Linked DNA regions of Homo sapiens: region 2 is linked to region 1. Evidence: fine-mapped expression QTL. Tissue or cell type: whole blood. Region 1 holds a variant in brackets; the other region holds the start of a gene. All regions are shown on one strand. Distances are from middle to middle.

Region 1 (10,491 bases):
TTGGGGTGCCATAAAATGTTAAATATCTATAGGAGGAATTCTTTTTAATGCTTCTTAAGAAAGACCTTCTGCCTTTTTTTGTTTTAAGAGACAGAGTCTTGCTATGTTGCCCAGGCTGGAGTGTAGTGGCTATTCACAGGTGTGATCATAGCTTACTGCAGCCTCAAATTCCTGGGTTCAAGTGATCCTCCTACCTTGGCCTCCCAAGTAGCTGGGACTACAGATGCAAGCCACTTACCATGGCTGACTAGTGTTTGTTTTTTCAATGAACTTTAGAATTACCTGGTGTAGTTTTTTAAAAAGAATACTGTCAGTGTCTTTATCTGACTAGTGTTTGTTTTTTCAATGAACTTTAGAATGACCTGGTGTAGTTTTTTAAAAAGAATATTGTATCTTTATTGGGATTATATTAAATGTGTCAAGTAACTCATAGAAAATTGTAATCTTTGGCCAAGCATGGTGGCCCAGGCCTGTAATCCCAGCACTTTGGGAGGCTGAGGCAGGTGGATCACGAGGTTAAGAGATTGAGACCATTCTGGCCAACATGGGTAAAACTCCGTCTTTACTAAAAATACGAAAATTAGCTGGGCGTGGTGGCATGCACCTGTAGTCCCAGCTACTTGAGAGGCTGAGGCAGGAGAATCGCTTGCATCCGGGAGTTGGAGGTTGCAGTGAGCCGAGATTGAGTCACTGCACTCCACCCAGCCCAGCAACAGAGCGAGACTCCATCTCAAAAAAAAAAAAAAGAAAATGACAATCTTTATGATATTGAGTCTTCCTATCCTTGAACATGGTGTGTTTTGATGTCTTTTGTGTCCTTTAGAAGTTTTGAAATGTCCTTTATATCGTCTGAACATTTATTCTTAAGTACTTTATCCTTTTTGGTACTACTATAAGTGGAATATTTCTTCCACTATATTATCTGAACAGAATACAATTTGTTGCTCTTTAGTGATTTTGTTTCTCTGTGTATGAGCAGAAAACAAACTCAATTTCTCCTACTATACTCCAGAAACACACTTCTGATACCACATGTGTGGGGTTCCCCCACCCCCCCATATCAAGCAAGGAGCCAGTTCTGCAGTGGCCACCAGCTGGGTGTTCTTAATTCAATTCCAACACTATCTACCTGGAGATAGCGTCAGATCCCAGTCCCACAAGACCGTCCCCCACTTCCAGTGCCAATTACAAGCCCCAGGTTGTATTACCTGTACTTCTGGCCAACTGGCTATAAATCAGGATTCTCATGACCCTCTTCTTGGGTTTGATTAATTTGCTAGAGCACCTCACAGAATGCAGGGAAGCATTTGCTTACGTTTAGCAGTTTATCATAAAGCATATTTTAAAGGATACAAATGAAAAGCCAGATGAAGACATAAACGGGGCACACTCTGGAAGGGCCTCAAATACAAAAGCTTCCATCCCCGAATACAAAATCTTCCATACAAGACCACCTTCCTGGGAAACCCCTGAACTCAGTCGTTACGGGTTTTTATGGCGATTTCATTATGTAGGCATGATCAATTACATCACTGGCCATTGGTGATCAACCTTCGGTTCCTCTCTCCTCCCCGAATGTGGAGGGTGGGGCTCTGAGCAGACGGTTGGATCCCCTGGCAAGCAGCCATCCATCCTGTGGTTATAAACGTTAAGCTCAGTTGTGGCTCCAAACAACAAGCCCGACTTTCACTTTTTTTTTTTTTTTTTTGAGATGGAGTTTCGCTCTGTTGCCCAGGCTGGAGTGCAGTGGCGATCTCAGCTCACTGCAACCTCTGCCTCCCGAGTTCATGCAATTCTCCTCCTCAGCCTCCTGAGCAGCTGGGATTACAGGTATGCACCACCATGCCCACCTAATTTTTGTATTTTTAGTAGAGACAGGGTTTCACCATGTTGGTCAGGCTGGTCTCGAACTCCTGACCTCGTTATCTGCCACCTTGGCCTCCCAAAGTGCCGGGATTACAAACGTGAGCCACTCCGCCCGGCCCATCTTTCACCTTTATGCTTACTCTGGAGCTGCTCCAGAGCTGTTTCAAGAACAAAGGATGAAAGGCCAAATATTTTAAGGAAAGATACTCTTATCACACTCTAGTCTCCTAGGAAATTACAATGATTATATGGGCTGTCAGCCAGGAACTATAGACAAAAACAAAGAATAGATATATCACACTTACTAACTTCTATAAAACAGAATGAGCGTCTTCATGGAGCGGAGCAGAGGACGCAGGTTTTACAGACAGAATAAGCTGAAGAAACCAGAAACAAAAAACAAAGAACGGATCGGTCATTTCAAAATTACTTTCTTAGTAAGGCAAGAACAGGGAAACAGAACAATTGAAAAATAACTGGTGGCCAGGTGTGCGGGCTCACACCTGTAAGCCCAGCACTTTGGGAATCCGAGGCGGGTGAATCACGAGGTCAGATTGAGACCATCTTGGTTAACACAGTGAAACCCCATCTCTACTAAAAATACAAAAAAAATTAGCCAGGCATGGTGGTTGGCGCCTGTAGTCCCAGCTACTTGGAAAACTGAGAAGGGAAGATTTGCGCCCAGTGTGTTTCGGGAATTAATGGGTTCTCGGTCTCACTAACTTCAAGAATGAAGCCACGGATGCTCGTGGTAAGTGTTATAGTTTTTAAACGCGGCCTATCCAGAGTCTGTTACTTTTGATGTTCAGATGTGTGCGGAATTTCTTCCCACTGGTCGGTCTGTGGTCTCACGGGCTCAGGACTGAAACCACAGACCTTCCCAGTGAGTGTTACAGCTCTGAAGGCGGTGCGTCTGGAGTTTTTTCTTCTTCCCGGTGGGTTCGTGGTCTCGCTAGCTTCAGGAGTGAAGCTACAGACTTTCGCGGTTGAGTGTTACGGCTCATAAAGGCAGCGCGGACCCAAACGGTGAACAACAACAAGATTTATCGCAAAGAGTGAAAGAACAAAGCTTCGCCAACGTAAACTGGGCCTCAGCGAGTTGTCACTGCCAGCTTGGGCAAGCCTGCTTTTATTCTCTTATCTGGCCCCACCCACATCCTGCTGATTGGTCCATTTTACAGAGAGCCGATTGGCCCATTTTACAGAGAGCTGATTGGTCCATTTTGACAGGGTGCTGATTGGTGCGTTTACAATCCCTGAGCTAGGCACGAAAGTTCTCCATGTCCCCACTAGATTAGTTAGATACAGAGTGTAGACACAAAAGTTCTCCAAGTCCCCAGCAGAGTAGGTAGATACAGAGTGTCAATTGGTGCATTCACAAACCCTGAGCTAGACACAGGGTGCTGATTGGTGTGTTTACAAACCTTGAGCTAGATACAGACTGCCGATTGGTGTATTTACAATCCCTTAGCTAGACATAAAGGTTCTCCAAGTCCCCAACAGACTCAGGAGCCCAGCTGGCTTCACCCAGTGGATCCCACACGGGGGCTGCAGGTGGAACTGCCTGCCAGTCCCGCGCCGTGTGCCTGCACTCCTCAGTTCTTGGGTGGTCGATGGGATTGGGCTCCATGGAGCAGGGGGCGGCGCTCATCGCGGAGGCTTGGGCCGCACAGGAGCCCACGGAGCTGGGGGGAGGCTCAGGCATGGCGGGCTGCAGGTCTTGAGCCCTGCCCCGCGGGAAGGCAGCTAAGGCCTGGCGAGAAATCGAGCACAGCAGCTGCTGGCCCAGGTGCTAAGACCCTCACTGCCCGGGGCTTGCGGGCCGGCCGGCCGGCCGCACCGAGTGCGGGGCCCGCGGAGCCCACGCCCACCCGGAACTCGCGCTGGCCAGCAAGTGCCGCGCGCAGCCCCGGTTCCCGCCCGCGGCTCTCCCTCCACACCTCCCCGCAAGCTAAGGGAGCCGGCTCCAGCCTTGGCCAGCCCAGAAAGGGGCTCCCACAGTGCAGCAGTGGGCTGAAGGGCTCCTCAAGCGCGGCCAGAGTGGGCACCAAGGCCGAGGAGGCGCCGAGAGCGAGGGCTGCAGGCGCGCTGTCACCTCTCACCAGGAGGAGGTCGAGGCTGCAGTGAGCCATAATTGCACCACTGCACTCCAGCCTGGGCGACAGAGCAAGAACCTGTCTTAGAAAGAAGCAGGGACTGAGCTGGGGAGGAAGGCTGGTGCCTGTGCCCTGGGAAGAAGGGCAAGGTGCTCTCAGAGTTGCTCTGGGGACAGGGACTCTGCCCCACGTTCAGAATTCATCCCCAACCTTGGTCTGCATGCTGGGTATGAGGAGAAAAGTGGCCCAAGAGAAGCCCTAAGTCTCCATGCTGGCTTCTGGGCCCCATGGGAGCCCGAACCACAAAGCTATGCAGGTCACTCCAGAGGGCCCGAGTCACCCCGAGGAGGAGAAGCAGCCCGGGGAGTGGCGTCCAGAGGTCTCCCTGGGAGCCTCGGCTCCTAGGTCAGAGCTCTCGTTTTTTTCTGACGGGAACGCAAAGAAAGCCAGTCCCGAGCTTGTGGTGCCATCTTGTGGCAACACGGGAGATAGCTGGTTTCCTCTTTCCAGAGGCTGCTTTCCAGGGCCGGGGAGGGGCGGGGCAGGGCAGTGAGCTGCTGTAGTAGAGTGACGGTGAAGAGCGGGGTCTAGGGAATATTCACCCTGCCTAGCCTTTCCCAAATGCATTCACACACACACTCACACTCACACACACACCCCTGTTGTACCTGGTCCAGGTGCGCTTGACAGGGTTGTGGGGGTAGAGAGGAAGGTGGGAGGCTTTGGCCAGGAGAAACTGGGGGAGACGGACTACTGCGTCGCCAGAAACTGCAGATTCTGGATTAAATCTACAAAATGAGGCATTCTGAAATCAAACGGCGTTTTAAGACCTTGCTAGGACCAGATGCTATTACCTTTGGAAGTTCCTTCCCACACCTTATTAAATATTAAAATACACAGATTTCTTACGTTAAATATAACATAGCACTGTCAGGTAACACGAGGTGATTTTTGTATGTTTGCCTTGGAAATTACTTGGCTAAGAGTAATTCATTTATGGTGTAATTACCTACGCGTTCTCAGCCCTCCCTGGGTATTCATTTGCATTCTTAAAGTACAGTCACACCCTAAATAACGACGTCTCAGGTCAGTGATGGGCTGCGTATCCGATGGCGGTCCCATAGGATTATAATGGAGCTGACAAATTCCTATCACCTAGTGACGTCATAGCCGATGTAACATTTTAGCTGACACAAAGCATTACTCATGCAAATCTATGACGGAAGAAAGAAACAAACTTGGCAAACCACCATGGACATACTTCTGAAAAGACGGACACTTCTTCAAGAAGTGCCTCAGGCAGGTCCTTTAGGAGAGATTGCAGAAGAAAGCATTGTCCGCTGGGCGTGGTGGCTCACGCCTGTAATCCCAGCACTTTGGGAGGCCGAGGCAGGTGGATCACCTGAGGTCAGGAGTTCGAGACCAGCTTGGCCAATACGGCGAAACCCCGTCGCTGGGCATGGTAGCGCGTGCCTGTACTCCCGGCTACTTGGGAGGCTGAGGCTTGAGGATCCCTTGAACCTTGGAGGTGGAGGCTGCAGTGAGCTGAGATCGTGCCACTGCACTCCAGCCTGGGCGACAGAGTAAGACTCTGTCTCAAAAAAAAAAAAAGAAAAAAAGCATTGTTGCAATAGCAGGTGACAGCTCCATGCGTGTTGTTGCCTATGAAGAACTTCCAGTGGGACAAGGTGTAGAGGTGCAAGACAGTGATATTGATGGTCCTGACCCTATGTAGGTTTAGGCTAATGTGTGTATTTGTGTCTTAGTTTTTAACAAAAAGGTTTTAAAAGTAAAAATAAAATAATTGAAAAATAAAAAGTTTATAGAATAAGGATACAAAAAAAGAAAATATTTTTGTATAGCTGCATAATGTGTTTGTGTTTTAAGCTAAGTGTTATTATAAAAAGTCAAAAAGTTTAAAAAAAATTTTAAAGTTCATAAAGTTGTAGAAAGCTAAGGCTAATTTATTACTGAAGAAAAACTTTTTTTTTGAGACAGAGTTTTGCTCTTGTTGCCTAGACTGGAGTGCAATGGCACAATCTCGGCTCA[C/T]TACAACCTCCGCCTCTCAGGTTCAAGTGATTCTCTTGCCTCAGTCTCCCTGGTAGCTGGGATTACAGGTGCCCACCACCATGCCTGGCTAATTTTTTGTATTTTTAGTAGAGATGGGGTTTCACCATGTTGACCAGGCAGGTCTCGAGCCCCTGACCTCAGGTGATTCACCCACCTCGGCCTCCCAAAGTGCAGGGATTACAGGCGTGAGCCACCGCGCCCTGCCAAAGAATAATATTTTTAATAAACTTAGTGTAGTAGCCTAGGTGACAGTGTCTTTAAAGTCTACAGTAGTGTACAGTATTGTCCTAGGCCTCCACATTCATTCACCACTCACTCACGGACTCACCCAGAGCAACTTCCAGTCCTGCAAGCTCCATTCATGGTAAGTACCCTAAACAGGTGTACATTTTAAATATTTTATATGATATTTTTACTGTGCCTTTTCTATGTTTAGCTATGTTTAGATACACAAATACTTATTATTGTATTATAATTGCCTACAGTATTCGGTACAGTCACGTGCTGTACAGGTTTGTAGCCTAGGAGCAATAGTCTATCTCTTATAGCCTAAGTGTGTAGCAGGCTACACATCACAGAGTGTGTAAGGACACTCTCTGATGTTTGTACAACATTGAAATCACCTAATGACACATTTTTCTGATGGTATTCCTGTGGTTAACAGATACATGACTGTGCTCCAAGAGTTAACATCTAGTCTACAAATTCTTTTCAAAAGTAATGAAATTCTTATGAACACTGCATTTAATAATTAAAGAGGCCAATAGAGAATTAATGACATAAATTAACAATCGATGACACTTTGTAGACATTTGATTAAACATTTATTAATTTGGATGATTCTGTAGTTTTTACATTTTGGAGCCAAGACTTTTCTCAGGTTTTAAACATTTATTTAGGTCCCTGAGAAGCTCATGGGCTTTCAGCATGTCCTCTGAGACCACTTTACCTGAAAGATAAGTGGCCTGATGTCACCTACCCATAGGAAAGCTATGAAGAATAAAAATTAGATACTAGATGAAAGCACTTAGCATAGTGTCTAGTAAACACTGAGCACCTAATTAGAAGTAGTAGATGTTAGTAAATGTATCTGCACACATGTACGCACAAACTCATTGATTCACTCAAACATTTTTTATTGGGCACTCACTATGTGCTGGGCAAGGCAATGTTCTAGGTGCCAAGGATATAGTAGGGAACAAACCCACCAAGAACCCTGTCCTTGTGGAATTTACATTCTAGTTGTGAGAGCTAGACATAAGCAATAAGCATTAAAAATCAGAAAGGAGGCCGGGTGCATTGACTCCTGCTTGTAATCCCAGCTCTTTGGGAGGCTGAGGTGGGAGGATAGCTTGAGCCCGGGAGTTTGAGGCTGCAGTGAGCTAGGACCACACCACTGCACTCCAAGCCTGGGCAACAGAGTGAGTCTCTGTCTCACACACATATATATATGTGTGTGTGTGTGTGTGTGTATATGTATATACATATAGGTATATACGTACGTATATACATATATATATATAGAGAGAGAGAGAGTGAGAAACAGAGAGAGAGAGAAAAATAAGAAAGGCATACAGTATGTTAGAAGGCCATGAATGCCTTGGGAGAGGGCCTGGCATGTTCTAGAACAGCAAGGAGGCCATTGTGGCTGGGATGGAGAGAGGGAGGAGAGTGGCAGAAGACCAGGCCAGAGGGGAAATGGGGCCAGCTCATGTAGGGCCTGGTAGGCCACAGGAAGGGCTGTGTTCAGTGGGAGCCCCTGCAGGGTTCTAAGCAGAGGAACATGAGGGACTGAACATACACGTGCACCATGGCCAGACCCTGTGGAAACTAGAACTCTGAGCCTAACCTGCAGCAAGCTGCCCAGGAAACCAACCCCCTCATCTGGAATCCACAGCCCAGGATGCCAGTCTGCTATAAGTCAGACATGAAGGAAGCCAGATCACTATCTCCAGTAGCCATCCAGGAAGCAAAACAATAACTTCTCTAACAATCAGCCCCGAAAGGCCAGGACTTGATTAAAAACTGGCAGCTTCCCTAATTTTTGTCCCAGCTTCCAACTTAGGGCCAGCAAGAGAAAGCCAAATATGCACCCACCCCTCCCCAGCCAATCTCAGAATCCCCTCCAAATTATCCCACCCAGCTTCTCCAGGCCAATAGCCTCCAATCAGGGCACACCCCAAGCCTTCCCCCACCTCCTTTCCCGCACCCCTACCCCCGGCCCACCGACAATAAGGCTCAGCCTGATTTTGAGTCCCTACAAAAATGCAAGTGATGCTGGCTGACAACCTTGCTACAGCAAGCTCTGAATGGTTTTTGTTTATTTCTACAAATGGTAGGATCTGTCTTACGAAGCTGCTTTATTGAGAATAGATTGTATGTAAAAGCAGACCCATTAAGAAACTGTTCCAAGACTCCATCTCAAAAAAAAAAAAAAAAAAAAAAAAAAAAAAAAAAAAAAAGCGGCTGTTGCAATAATCCAGGCAAGAAAAGAGAGTGGTGTGGACCAGGCTGGTAGCAGGGCGGGAGGTGGACTCTGGTTATTTGTATTCTAAGTTGTTAATTTTGAAATAATTGTAGGGTCACAGAAGGTCACAAAGGAATGTAGAGAGAAGTCCCATGTTCCCTACCTCTCATGCGAACAACTCACATAACCAGAGTACAGTATCAAAACGAAGAAATGGAACATCGGCACAATCCATTGAGTTTATTCAGATCTAACCAGTTATGCACGCACCCATTTGTGTGTGTGTTTGTGTGTGCCTGTAGGAAATGGGAAATCATGTATATAGTGAGAAAAATAGAGTTGGCCTTTGTCCCTGGTTCTTGGCACAGATCTTTTAAAACCCTCCTAAAATTTCCTGAGTTACAGTGATGTTTTGTTATTCATAACAAACCCCTTTCAACCATACCTGAGCTTATGTTAATGAGGACCCTAAATAGTTTCTGGATACAGGCTGCTGATCAGAAAGACTAAGCCATGATTGATGATGAGAGAGTTGGAACTTTCAGCCTCACTCTCTGACCTCCAGGGAGTGGACAGTGGCTAGGGATGGAGTTCAGTCACCAATGACCAATGATTTCATCAATCATGCCTCTGTAATGGAACCTTCATAAAGTTCCAAAACAATGGAGTTTGGAGAGCTTCTGGGTTGGAACACATGGAGATGCTGGAGGGGTGACGCCCAGAGCAGGCAGGGAGGCTCTGCACACCCACCCTACAATACCCAGTCCTATGCATCTCTTCACTTGGCTGTTCCTGAGTTGTATCTTTTACAATAGACCAGTAATGGTGAAGTAATGTGTTTTTTTGAGTTCTGTGAGCCATTCTAGCAAATTATCAAACCTGAGGAATGGAGGTCACGGGAACCTCCAAATTTGTAGTTGGCTGGACAGAAGTGTGGGTAACCTGGGGACCCAGTACTTGTGACTGGCATGTGAAATGGGGGTAGTTTTGTTTTGTTTTGTTTTGTTTTTTTGGAGACATCGAGTCTCACTCTGTCACCCAGGCTGGAGTGCAGTGGCACGATCTCGGCTCACACAACCTCCGCCTCTGGGTTCAAGCAATTATCCTGTCTCAGCCCCCCAAGTAGCTGGGATTACAGGCACTCGCCACCACTCCTGGCTAATTTTTGTACTTTTAGTAGAGATGAGGTTTCACCATGTTGGCCAGGCTGGACTCGAACTCCTGACCTCAGGTGATCCGCCTGCCTCGGCTTCCCAAAGTTCTGGGATTACAGGCATGAGCCACCACACCCAGCCATTTTTTTTTTTTTTGAGATGGAGTTTCACTCTTGTTGCCCAGGCTGGAGTGCAATGGCGTGACCTCAGCTCACTGCAACCTCCACCTCCTGGGTTCAAGCAATTCTTCTGCCTCAGCCTCCCGAGTAGCTGGGATTACAGGTGCCCGCCACCAGGCCTGGCTAATTTTTGTATTTTTAGTAGAGACAGGGTTTCACCATGTTGGCCAGGCTGGTCTCGAACTCCTGACCTCAGGTGATCCGCCCGCCTCAGCCTCCCAAAGTGCTGGGATTACAGGTGTGAGCCACTGCGCCTGGGAGAAATGGGGGTAGTCTTATGGGACTGAGCCCTTCAGCCTGTGGAGTCTGACACTAACTCCAGGTTAGTATCAGAATAGAATTGAATTATTGAACACCCAATTGGTATCACAGAAGCAGAAAATCGATTGGTGTTGGAAATGATACCACTTATTTGGTATCAGCACAAAGACCACAAAAAAGCTTTTTTTTTTTTTTTTTTTTGAGACAGAGTCTCACTCTGTTTTCAGGCTGAAGTGCAGTGGCACAATCTTGGCTCACTGCAACCTCCTCCTCCCGGGTTAAAGCAATTCTTCTGCCTCAGCCTCCTGAGTAGCTGGGATTACAGGCACACACTGCCACACCCGGCTAATTTTTGTATTTTTAGTAGAGACGGGGTTTCACCGTGTTGGCCAGGTTGG
Region 2 (9,245 bases), 19 kb before region 1:
GGTGGTGATGGTTACACAATATTGTGAATCTACTTAATGCCACTGAATGGTACACTTATAAATGGTTAACATAGGAACTTATCCATTAGGTATATTTTACCACATTTTGTAAAATACAAAAACAGGCCGGGCATGGTGGCTCATGCCTGTAATCCCAGCACTTTGGGAGGCCGAGGTGGGTGGATCACGAGGTCAGGAGTTAGAGACCAATCTGGCCAACATAGTGAAACCCCATCTCTACTAAAAATATAAAAAATAGCCAGGTATGGTGGCGTGGCCTGTAATCCCAGCTACTCGGGAGGCTGAGGCAGGAGAATGGCGTGAACCCGGAAGGAGGAGGTTGCAGTGAGCCGAGATCGCACCATTGCACTCCAGCCTGGGCGACAGTGTGAGACTCCGTCTCAAAAACAAACAGATAAACAAACAAACAAAAAACAAAGCAAAACAAACAAACAACAACAAAAAAAAACCAAAGTGCTTAATACAGTACCTGGCACATTTGAAGTGCTCATAAATGTTACCTAGTATTGTTAAGTAATGTTATTCTTAGTTGTAATAATGTTTATAAAAGTTACTGTAATACGGTGTCCTCTGTACTTTCATGAAGGGGAGTAAAAGGGCCTGAAAGGCAGCAGAGCAAGAAACCCAAGTAGTTCCTTTGTCGGGGGAGGTGGGAGGTGGGCAGGAAAGGTGTGGCAAGAGAAGGGTTCGTTGGGGAGGCTTCCTTAAGCAGAAACCACATGAGCTGGGAGGCCTTGGCAAAGATACCTCTTCAGTCTGAGCCAGTTTCTCACCTCGGATCTGGGAAGTTGGTTTTAGTTTTGCCGTGCCTGGGACATGCCCCTGGCTCCAGGCCAGCGCAACAGGGGTACTACCTCCATCCTCCCTAATCTGAAGTCCTGCATCTGAGGCAAAGTTGAGGCAGGGCTCGAGGGTGGGCGGAAGGGCCCAGGCCCGGAGGCCACTGACCCTTCTCACCTTGCCCAACTGCTCAGTGGAGAAACCGCAGCCCAGCGAGGCCGCCCCAACTCCTCCGTGTCCTCTTTTCTACTCTATCCTACCCTCCCTTCCCTGCCCCACCCGAGACGGTCAGGACCCTGGTGTCTGGACTTCCCGCTTTGTGTCACTCTCTAGGGTACTTGACCAAATCCTCCGTTAGACCCTCTCTTCCCGCCTCTCCCCACCACAGCAAACCAACAAAGCTTAACCCCATCATCCCCTAACCCAATAGTACCTCTGTAGGGCTGGGGCTGGGGCTGGGCTGGCGGCCTTCAGAGGGGGTCTCGGGGGGAGGCATGGTGGGCTCCTGGGGCCGGGCGGGGTCCTGCTGGGGCCTCGGAGATCGGGCGGGTGCAGGCTCCATGGACCCCAGCTTAGTTTCGATTCTCGGTTTAGATCTTGGAGTGCGTGAAGAGAAGCTGAAGGGGAGGCGTGAGCCAGTTGGCTGAGTCCCTTGAGCTGTCCGAAAGGGGAGGTGCCGGCTCAGGGCCCGCCTCTGGAGAGGAAGTGAGACAGAAGCTGGGGGCGGTTCTAGGGGGCAGAGAGGCCGACTGTGGGTTTTAAAGACACGCCCAGAGCGGGGAGGAGGTAGAGGCGGAGAGCTGCAGACCTACCGCTGACTTACGGTAAAGCGGGAGAGGTAGGGCAGAGCTGCAGGGGGGCAGCCCTGCTCCCGGCTTTGATCCATTCATCCGTTCACACTGGCACTGCTTCGTGCCACGTCCTGCCGGGAGCTGGGCGTACAAAGATGAGCCACACGCAGCCCCTGCTTTCTAAGAGCCGTAGATGTAATGGAAGAGCAAGCCTGCAAACGGAGACATTCTGGAAAGGAGAGCCCACAGCTGGGACCTGCAAAAGCAGTGGAAATTCACCAGGGATTTAGGGTTGTAGGTGGTGGGGTACGGGGGACACTTGAAACAGAAAAGATAGCTCTTGCAAAAGCCTGTTTGGGAACTAATTTTGGCCATTTTCAGATTTAAGAGGGAATTCATGAGAAATGATACCCAAGGAGTGTGCTAGGACAAGATCCTAGCTGAGGAGATTGAACCAGTTCTGTGAGTGATGGGAAGTTGCTGAAGGATTTGGAACCAGGGAACAACACGATCAGCTGTGCATGATGGGACAGTCACTCTGACAACCTAGGAGCAGGTGCCCTGGTCTAGGACAGTGGCTGTGGGATGCAGAGGAGGGACTTGATTCAGAGATCCTGGGAAGCCAGTGACTGGAGGTGAGGGAGCAGGATGATGCCTTGAGTGACAGCTGGAAAGGCTGGTGGATCTGAGGTGGTGGGGGCAGGAGGGAGGGGGAGAGCTGGAGAGCGGGTATGAAGAGGGTGAGGGGAGAGCCAGCTAGGTCTTCGCCAATGGAAAAGCATGTCAGACTCCCAGCTGGTAAGGGGAAAGGGGCACAGTTCCAGGTGACCTCACTGGGTCAGCGCCCCGGCTTCAAACTTAAACCATCGCAACCACTGTGCTGGCTCCTGTGTACCCATTCCGTACTCTGTTCCAACTTAGAAACAGACTAGAAAGGATGATGATAGGGCCTGGCTCTTGTAAACCTTACAGTCTGCAGGGTGGAGAGCAGGGGTTGGGCAGATACGCAACTTCCTAGGGACTGTAAGGCCTCAGGAGCCTGCCCTTCCCTCCAGCCTGGTCAGTACTCCCAGGCCTTTAGAGAATCAGTCCATGAAAGCCAAATATGGTGGGCAGCCATCTGCACAAGGGACCTGGAAGTGGGCTATGGCAGGATGGGGCTTCGGAGGCCAGAGGCGATTGGCTGAGGAGGCAGAGCTGGGGAAGCTTTATTCATTTCTTTGCTTGCTTTGGAAGATAGCCTGCTCCCAGACTACCCCAAAGTCCTGTTGGAAGTTAACACTTCTCAAAGGAAATTCACGAGTTGCATTCAGGTTTTCTCAAGCCCTGGAGAGGCAAGTTAATTCCAGGTACCTGGATCAAGGGGCATGCTCTTTCTGGACCTGCAGGACTGAGGGCCTCACCTCTGTGGTGCTCTGGGGCCCCTGCCCTCATGTAGCTCTGTGCTATCCCCTTCTTCCTTACACTCCCATGCTCCCCGAAGTCTGCATGTGAAACTTCTTTCTTTTTGTGCCAAAGTTCAGGCCTTCCTACTCCACCTTGATCACGGTGACCTGGCCAGGCCATTACTTAACAAATAAGTATTGAGACCTGCCCTATGCCAGTCCCTGCTTGCTGGGCTGTGGGTTCACAAAGAGGAATAATTTGCAGACTATGTCCCAGAGAAACCCAAAGTCCAGATATGGCATGTCCTGCCTCCAGTGTGAGAGAAGGAGTGCTGAGAAGGCTGATATAGCATGTCCTTGATCCTGGAGAAGATTGGCTTCCTGTAAACCCTGATGAGATCTTGCTCTCTCGCTCCGACTGCAGTGCAGTGGCACGATCATAGCTCACTGCAGCCTCAAACTCCTGGACTCAAGAGATCCTCCCGCCTCAGCCTCCCAAGTGGCTGGGACCACAGGCAGGCATCCCACGCCAGGCTAATTTTTAAAAATTTTTTGTAGAGATGGGCTCTCACTATGTTGCTCAGGATGGTCCTGAATTCCTGGCCTCAAGCGATCCTCCTGCCTGAGTCTCCCAAATTGATGGATTATAGGAGTGAGCCACCGTGCCCAGCTTCCCCTCCAGCTTTTCTAGGGCTGAGTAGGAGAAGAGGGGAGGAGGCGATGACCCCAGCGGGGTCCGAGGAACGCCGATCACACCCAGTAGCCCTGGGCTGCAGTTCGGTCCTCCCAGCGCAGGGGGAGCCATGCGACGGCGGAAGCGGGCCCCGGCCGGCCTCCTCTTCCTGCGCCCGCGCCGCCGCGGGTGGCCGCGCGGGTGAAGCCGGAAGCAGCAGCCAGGAGGGCGGGGCCGCGTAGGGCCCACTGGCCAGGGAGGGCGCCGCGCGGAGGCGCGGGGCGTGTCTCCTGTCAAAAGCCATGCTCGGCAGGTCTGGGTACCGGGCGCTGCCCCTGGGTGATTTTGACCGCTTCCAGCAGTCGAGCTTCGGCTTTCTGGGCTCGCAGAAGGGCTGCTTGTCCCCGGAGCGGGGCGGCGTGGGGACAGGGGCCGGTGAGTGGCCGCCTGGCACGGCGGAGCCGGGGGGGACCGGCCGGCAACCCCCAGGCCCGAATCTCTGCCTCCGAGGAGTCGGCCGGCCCGGTGCCGTCGCACCCTACGAGGGGGGACTGAGAAAGGGATACGATGTGGAGAGGGGGCTGGACCCGGCGCCTGGTGCTAGCGCCGATCCGCCCTCCCTAGGGTCATGGGGCTTTGGCCCCAGAGCCAGCCAGCGTTGCTCCTATCTTCCAAAACCTCACCTCACCACATTTGTCCTCGGCTCTTATCAGCCCTTTAGGCCTGGGAAGACGTTTCAGGTTTCTATTTCGCATAGAAGAAACCGAGGTCTAGGCAGAGGAGGCCACCAGCACCCTAAAGGCACCTGCTGCAGGGAAATGGAAGAATTTTCGCCCTAGGGGGCACCTCTAGAAGCCCGGGAACTAGGCATCTCCTGGATGTGCAGGCCAAAATGACAGGTCCTCAGCTGCCTGTTGGATCTGCCCTGCTTCTGTCTTGCCCTCAAAGTCTTCTGTGGCTCCTTTGGCCTACAGGCCAGATCCCACGCTGTTCAGCCTAACCGCCTAACCTTGGATTTGATCCCTCCCTGGCCTTCCTGTCCTGAAAGCTCTCCCTATCCAGAAGTCTCTTGAGAGGCCTGGTGGATCAGAGCCAGGCACAAAGTGGAGCCTCAGTGCTCTGGGGCTTAGCCCAGAGGGCAGGGCTTCCTGGAAGAATGGAGCAGGGCTCCCGACTGCTTCCTGTCCAGGGTTGGGAGGAAAGCGGCAAATAACCTCATCCCAGATTCTGGAGCTGTCTCGGCTTTGCTCCCAACTTGGGCTCCTGAATCTCCAGGGGCCAGGACATTTGGCTTGGATAAGCCTCATCTTTCTAGCCCTGCCCCTGACCCCGACCCCTAACAATTTTCTTGAATTGAAATAGGCAGGGTTTTTTTTTGTTTTTGTTTTTTGTTGTTTGTTGTTTTTTTGAGATGGAGTCTCGCTCTGTCCCCCAGGCTGGAGTGCAGTGGCGCCATCTCGTGAAATAGGCATTTTTTAATGGTCATTAAGGCATTAAAGTTGGGTGTGGAATAGAAAATAATAATCTAATTCCTCATCTGTGGCTCCCGTTGATAAGCTATTTATGATTTATCCCTGTAGGCTAAGGCATCATCTTCATAAGGACTCCTGGAAAGCACACTTCTGGGGCTGATGGTATAGGAGGAATGTGTTTTGCCAGCAGTATTCAGTGCATGTTTACAGATGCCCAGGTGCTCCTGGCTCCATGCCAGGTATGGGTAGGCAATATAAATTAAACGAGAGGATTGACCCCTACTCAGTCCAGTGAGGAGAGCATCATCACGCGGACTGGATTCTGAGATTGAATGGCTGTTGCCTAGCAGAGAATAAGGCCTTGTGAGGGTTGTTGGACTTGGGACAAATGAGTGTTGATGTATGGGAGGAGGGAACAGACCCTAACTTGCAGCTGCCCAAAGATACGGGAATATTAGGCAAGGAGCCAGATTGAGAGCCCTGAGAAGGAAGGAGCCTCTCGAGGGGAAGGTGGGCGTAAGGTACACTTGCCCAAGTTCACTCCGCTTGGCAGCTGTCGTGCAGGTCCAGTTGACCACCTCTGCTCTCACCTGCAGATGTACCCCAGAGCTGGCCCTCCTGCCTCTGTCATGGCCTCATCAGTTTCCTGGGGTTCTTGCTGCTGTTGGTCACCTTCCCCATTTCTGGCTGGTTTGCCCTGAAGGTAAGGCTGGCTGGGTCAGCCCCCAGGGTGGTTGGGCCACACTGAGAGCTTTGGCATTGATGAATAAATTTGCCTATCCTCTGTCCCCTTTCCCTAAATATTATTACCCCTTTGTGTAATGGGCTAGGCAAGAACCATTCATTCACATTGGTCAGGGGAGGAAACTAAGGCTTGGGCTTGTCTAAAGTCATACTGGGAGCCAGTAGGGGGTAGAAGCAAGTCCCAAACTCCTAAGTCCTGGGATCTGGACACTGGCTTTAAGGTACACGCAGATGTCTTTGCCAAATTATCTTCTCTTTGGGTTAGAATAAATTAGAAATGAAAACACCCAACTTAGCCCAGCTGGTAGTGCATAATAGGAATTCAGGCCTCATTTTCCATAAGGGGTGGTACAGTGGGAAAAGGATGAACCATGGAGCTATAGTTCAGCATCGCACGTGAAAGCTGGGGGAAGGTGGAAGCCCAAGGAGGCCTTGCCCTTTGTGTAGCCCTAGGCAACAGTCCCTCTCTAGAAAACCTCTGGGTTTGGTGTGGTCTGCAAGGGGGTCCTTAAATGGCCTTATATCCTAGTTCTAAAACTGCCACAGAAACAAATGCCATGTGACCTTGAACAGGTTTCTTTGCCTCTCTGGGCCTTCATTTCTCAATTTGGACATCACTACTTCTCTAGGAGGTCCAGGGACCTAAAGTTGACAAAGCCCTTTCCCCGGGGGTGCTGTTAGGGCAGCCGAGCCTTTTCTCCTAACTAATCCAAGGACAGACAGTTTCCTGGTATGAGTCATGTCTAACTTCAGACCACAGAGATGAAAAGTTTCTCTAAGGATCAAGTCAATACAGTGCAGTAGTTAAGACACATGGCCTTTGGAGTTATTCAGAACTGCATTCAAATCTTCACTATTTCACTTAGGGCTATGCAATTTTTGAGCAGTCACTTAGCTTCCCTGAGCCTTGGTTTTCTCATCTGGAAACAGTGCTAGGGATACCTAACTGTGACCCAGGTGAGGAGGAGAGAAGTGAGGAAGGGACCTAGGCAGACAGCATTGGCCAGCCTAGGCTGACCACTTTCAACTCTTTCCCTTGCCATTGTGGACAGATTGTGCCCACCTACGAGCGGATGATTGTGTTCCGCCTGGGCCGGATCCGCACCCCCCAGGGACCTGGCATGGTTCTGCTCTTGCCCTTCATTGACTCCTTTCAGAGGGTGGATCTGAGGACACGAGCCTTCAACGTCCCTCCCTGCAAGGTGAGGGGCTTCTCAGCTGCCTTGACAGAGGAACTGGGGGCCTGTCCAGAATGTACTGTGGTGCCAGGACCTCAGCCTGTGAGTCACCATCTGAGGGGGGAAGGGGGAAGAAGAGACCAGAAAATTGATGGAAGCTAGGAGGACATCCTTGCTTCATACACCTAACCCTACATACTTGGTGACACCATTTGCCCTTGAGGAGCTAGCTGCCAAGCAGGTGGTTCAAGCTGGGTGGCCCCAGTGGGCCTGACCTCCCTGCACCCCCAGCCCCTTGAGTGTCTCTCTCTCATGGCCTCCCCCAACAGCTGGCCTCTAAGGACGGGGCTGTGCTGTCCGTGGGAGCCGATGTCCAGTTTCGCATCTGGGACCCGGTGCTGTCGGTGATGACTGTGAAAGACCTGAACACAGCCACACGCATGACAGCCCAGAACGCCATGACCAAGGCCCTGCTCAAGAGGCCGCTGCGGGAGATCCAGATGGAGAAGCTCAAGATCAGCGACCAGCTTCTGGTAGGCAGCCCCTCACAAGACGGAGCTTGAGGGGTGGCACCGGCCTGGCTCCACCTGCCAGGTCACTTTGAGAAAAGAGTCAGACCACTCTGGGCCTCAGTTTACCATATGTCCCAATAGTGTAACCACCTTTGAAGAGCCAGTGCCTGGGTGGGGCCATGAGTTGAGGAATGGCAGGTGGGCGTAGACCATAACGATCCTGGGCAAACTTGTCCCTGAGAAGAGGAAGTGGCCCCGGCAGACATTCTTGGGGTCTGCCCCTTAGTTTTTACCCCTCACTGCTCTGCCATGATGACACTGGCTTCTACAGCTCTCATTCCGGGCCTGACTCATGGGGCAGGCAGATGGGTGATGGAGCAGGGACCCTCCCAGCCCAGTCACCTGCTGGGGAATTCCAGGCTCACCATGCAGCGTGTGCATGCTTGTGATTTTTGTTTCCTTGTTTGGAACAGAACAAAGGAACATGAGGACATTTGGATCTTTTTCCTGCCTCTTCTCCATGTGTATATTGGAGTTTGCCCTAAATCTCTTCTGCTACAAGATGGGGTAGAAATAAATACACATGCAGAGTTGTGTCCCCTGCAGCCACACTCAACTTGTGCTTCCTCTTGTGTCCTGACAGGGGAATGTAGGTGACATTTCTCCCCATTCCTCTTGGCTCTGCTTTGCCCTGGGGAATCAAGGTTAGAGGACAGTCGGGGGAATGGGATAAATGCCAGTCCTGGAGGTCCCACTGGAAGCAGCGAGGGGAAATTCCTGAGGAAATACTATTTGAGATCCTAACAGTAGCTCTTACGTGCTTAGCAGTTTATGGTTTACAAAGTCCTTTTGTCTGGCCCAGCATTTCTGAGCTTGACATTTTTTGCTGCAAGTCGGTACTACTGTTTTATTTTGGAGGGAGGAAGCTAAGGCTAAGAAATAATTTGACTTGCCTCTGAGAGCTATGGTCAAGGGCAGAGCTGAGCCATAGCTAGACCACCTGCCTCCATCCCACCATCGCCCCTCAATCCAGTGCTTGATCTAACACAACTCAGATAGCAAGTGGATAACAACTTTTATTCATAAAACCATGCCCCGTGTTAATTCACCTTTAGGAAGAGAAAACTGATCTCAGTCTTGTTGCACATTGTTTTGATGTGAGACAGGCAGTTTGGGGAGGTCAGTTCCACACCAGGATGTGAGAGTCCTTTAAGTCCCATTTCCCAGACTGAGTGAGCACCTGGTAGAGTGAGAGCTGTGCCTGTGGTTGAGACAGAACCTCAGGAGGTCCAGCACACCGCCCTCAGGCCCTGGTTCAGGCGTACACTTATTCACATGCCCCTTTTTGCCTGATTTTCTTCTAGAGAAATCAGAGTCCCCACCTCTCACTTGCTGGACCTTCCTTAGCCAGTTACCACTCCTTACCTGCCAGTGCTCCAGGCCAGCTGCCTCAGCCCTTCACTGCCCTCCTCCAGCCCCACCACTGCTCATTGCTCTCTGCAGCAGGCCTTGCCTCCTAACACTCAGGAGAAAAACTCTAGGATGAGCACTCTGCTTCCTCCAGTTTCACCCCTTCAAACCCACCTGCCTCTGTGCTGCTTTCCTGCCTCCTTGCCCTTCTGCCTCCCCTCTCTGAGGCTCATCCCTGTACTGCGCAGTGCTGTGGGCCCCCTGCTATCCCAGGATGCC

What was found. PIP is the estimated chance that this variant, and not a neighbour inherited with it, causes the effect.
Region 2: STOML1 starts here. The variant in region 1 is fine-mapped to the expression of STOML1 in whole blood (TOPMed, PIP above 0.99). The same link has a PIP of 0.9 or more in blood mononuclear cells.

The regions. Positions count from the first base shown.
Region 1 is chr15:73,967,055-73,977,545 of GRCh38, reverse strand. No RefSeq gene overlaps it. Among named protein-coding and RNA genes, the nearest start is that of STOML1, 20 kb to the left of the region's middle. RefSeq lists an enhancer at 4,133-4,342. The variant C/T (reference allele first, on the strand shown) is at 6,012.
Region 2 is chr15:73,986,931-73,996,175 of GRCh38, reverse strand. It overlaps STOML1 (stomatin like 1), which reads left to right and starts at 3,881. Exons shown (of 7, transcript NM_004809.5): 1 at 3,881-4,085; 2 at 5,719-5,825; 3 at 6,919-7,068; 4 at 7,374-7,577. The coding sequence starts at 3,953. PML (PML nuclear body scaffold) reads right to left here and starts at 1,460. Exons shown (of 9, transcript NM_033238.3): 1 at 1,235-1,460. The coding sequence starts at 1,363. RefSeq lists enhancers at 878-1,047, 4,345-4,414, 4,475-4,604, 7,671-7,730, 7,901-7,960 and 2 more and a silencer at 3,655-4,214.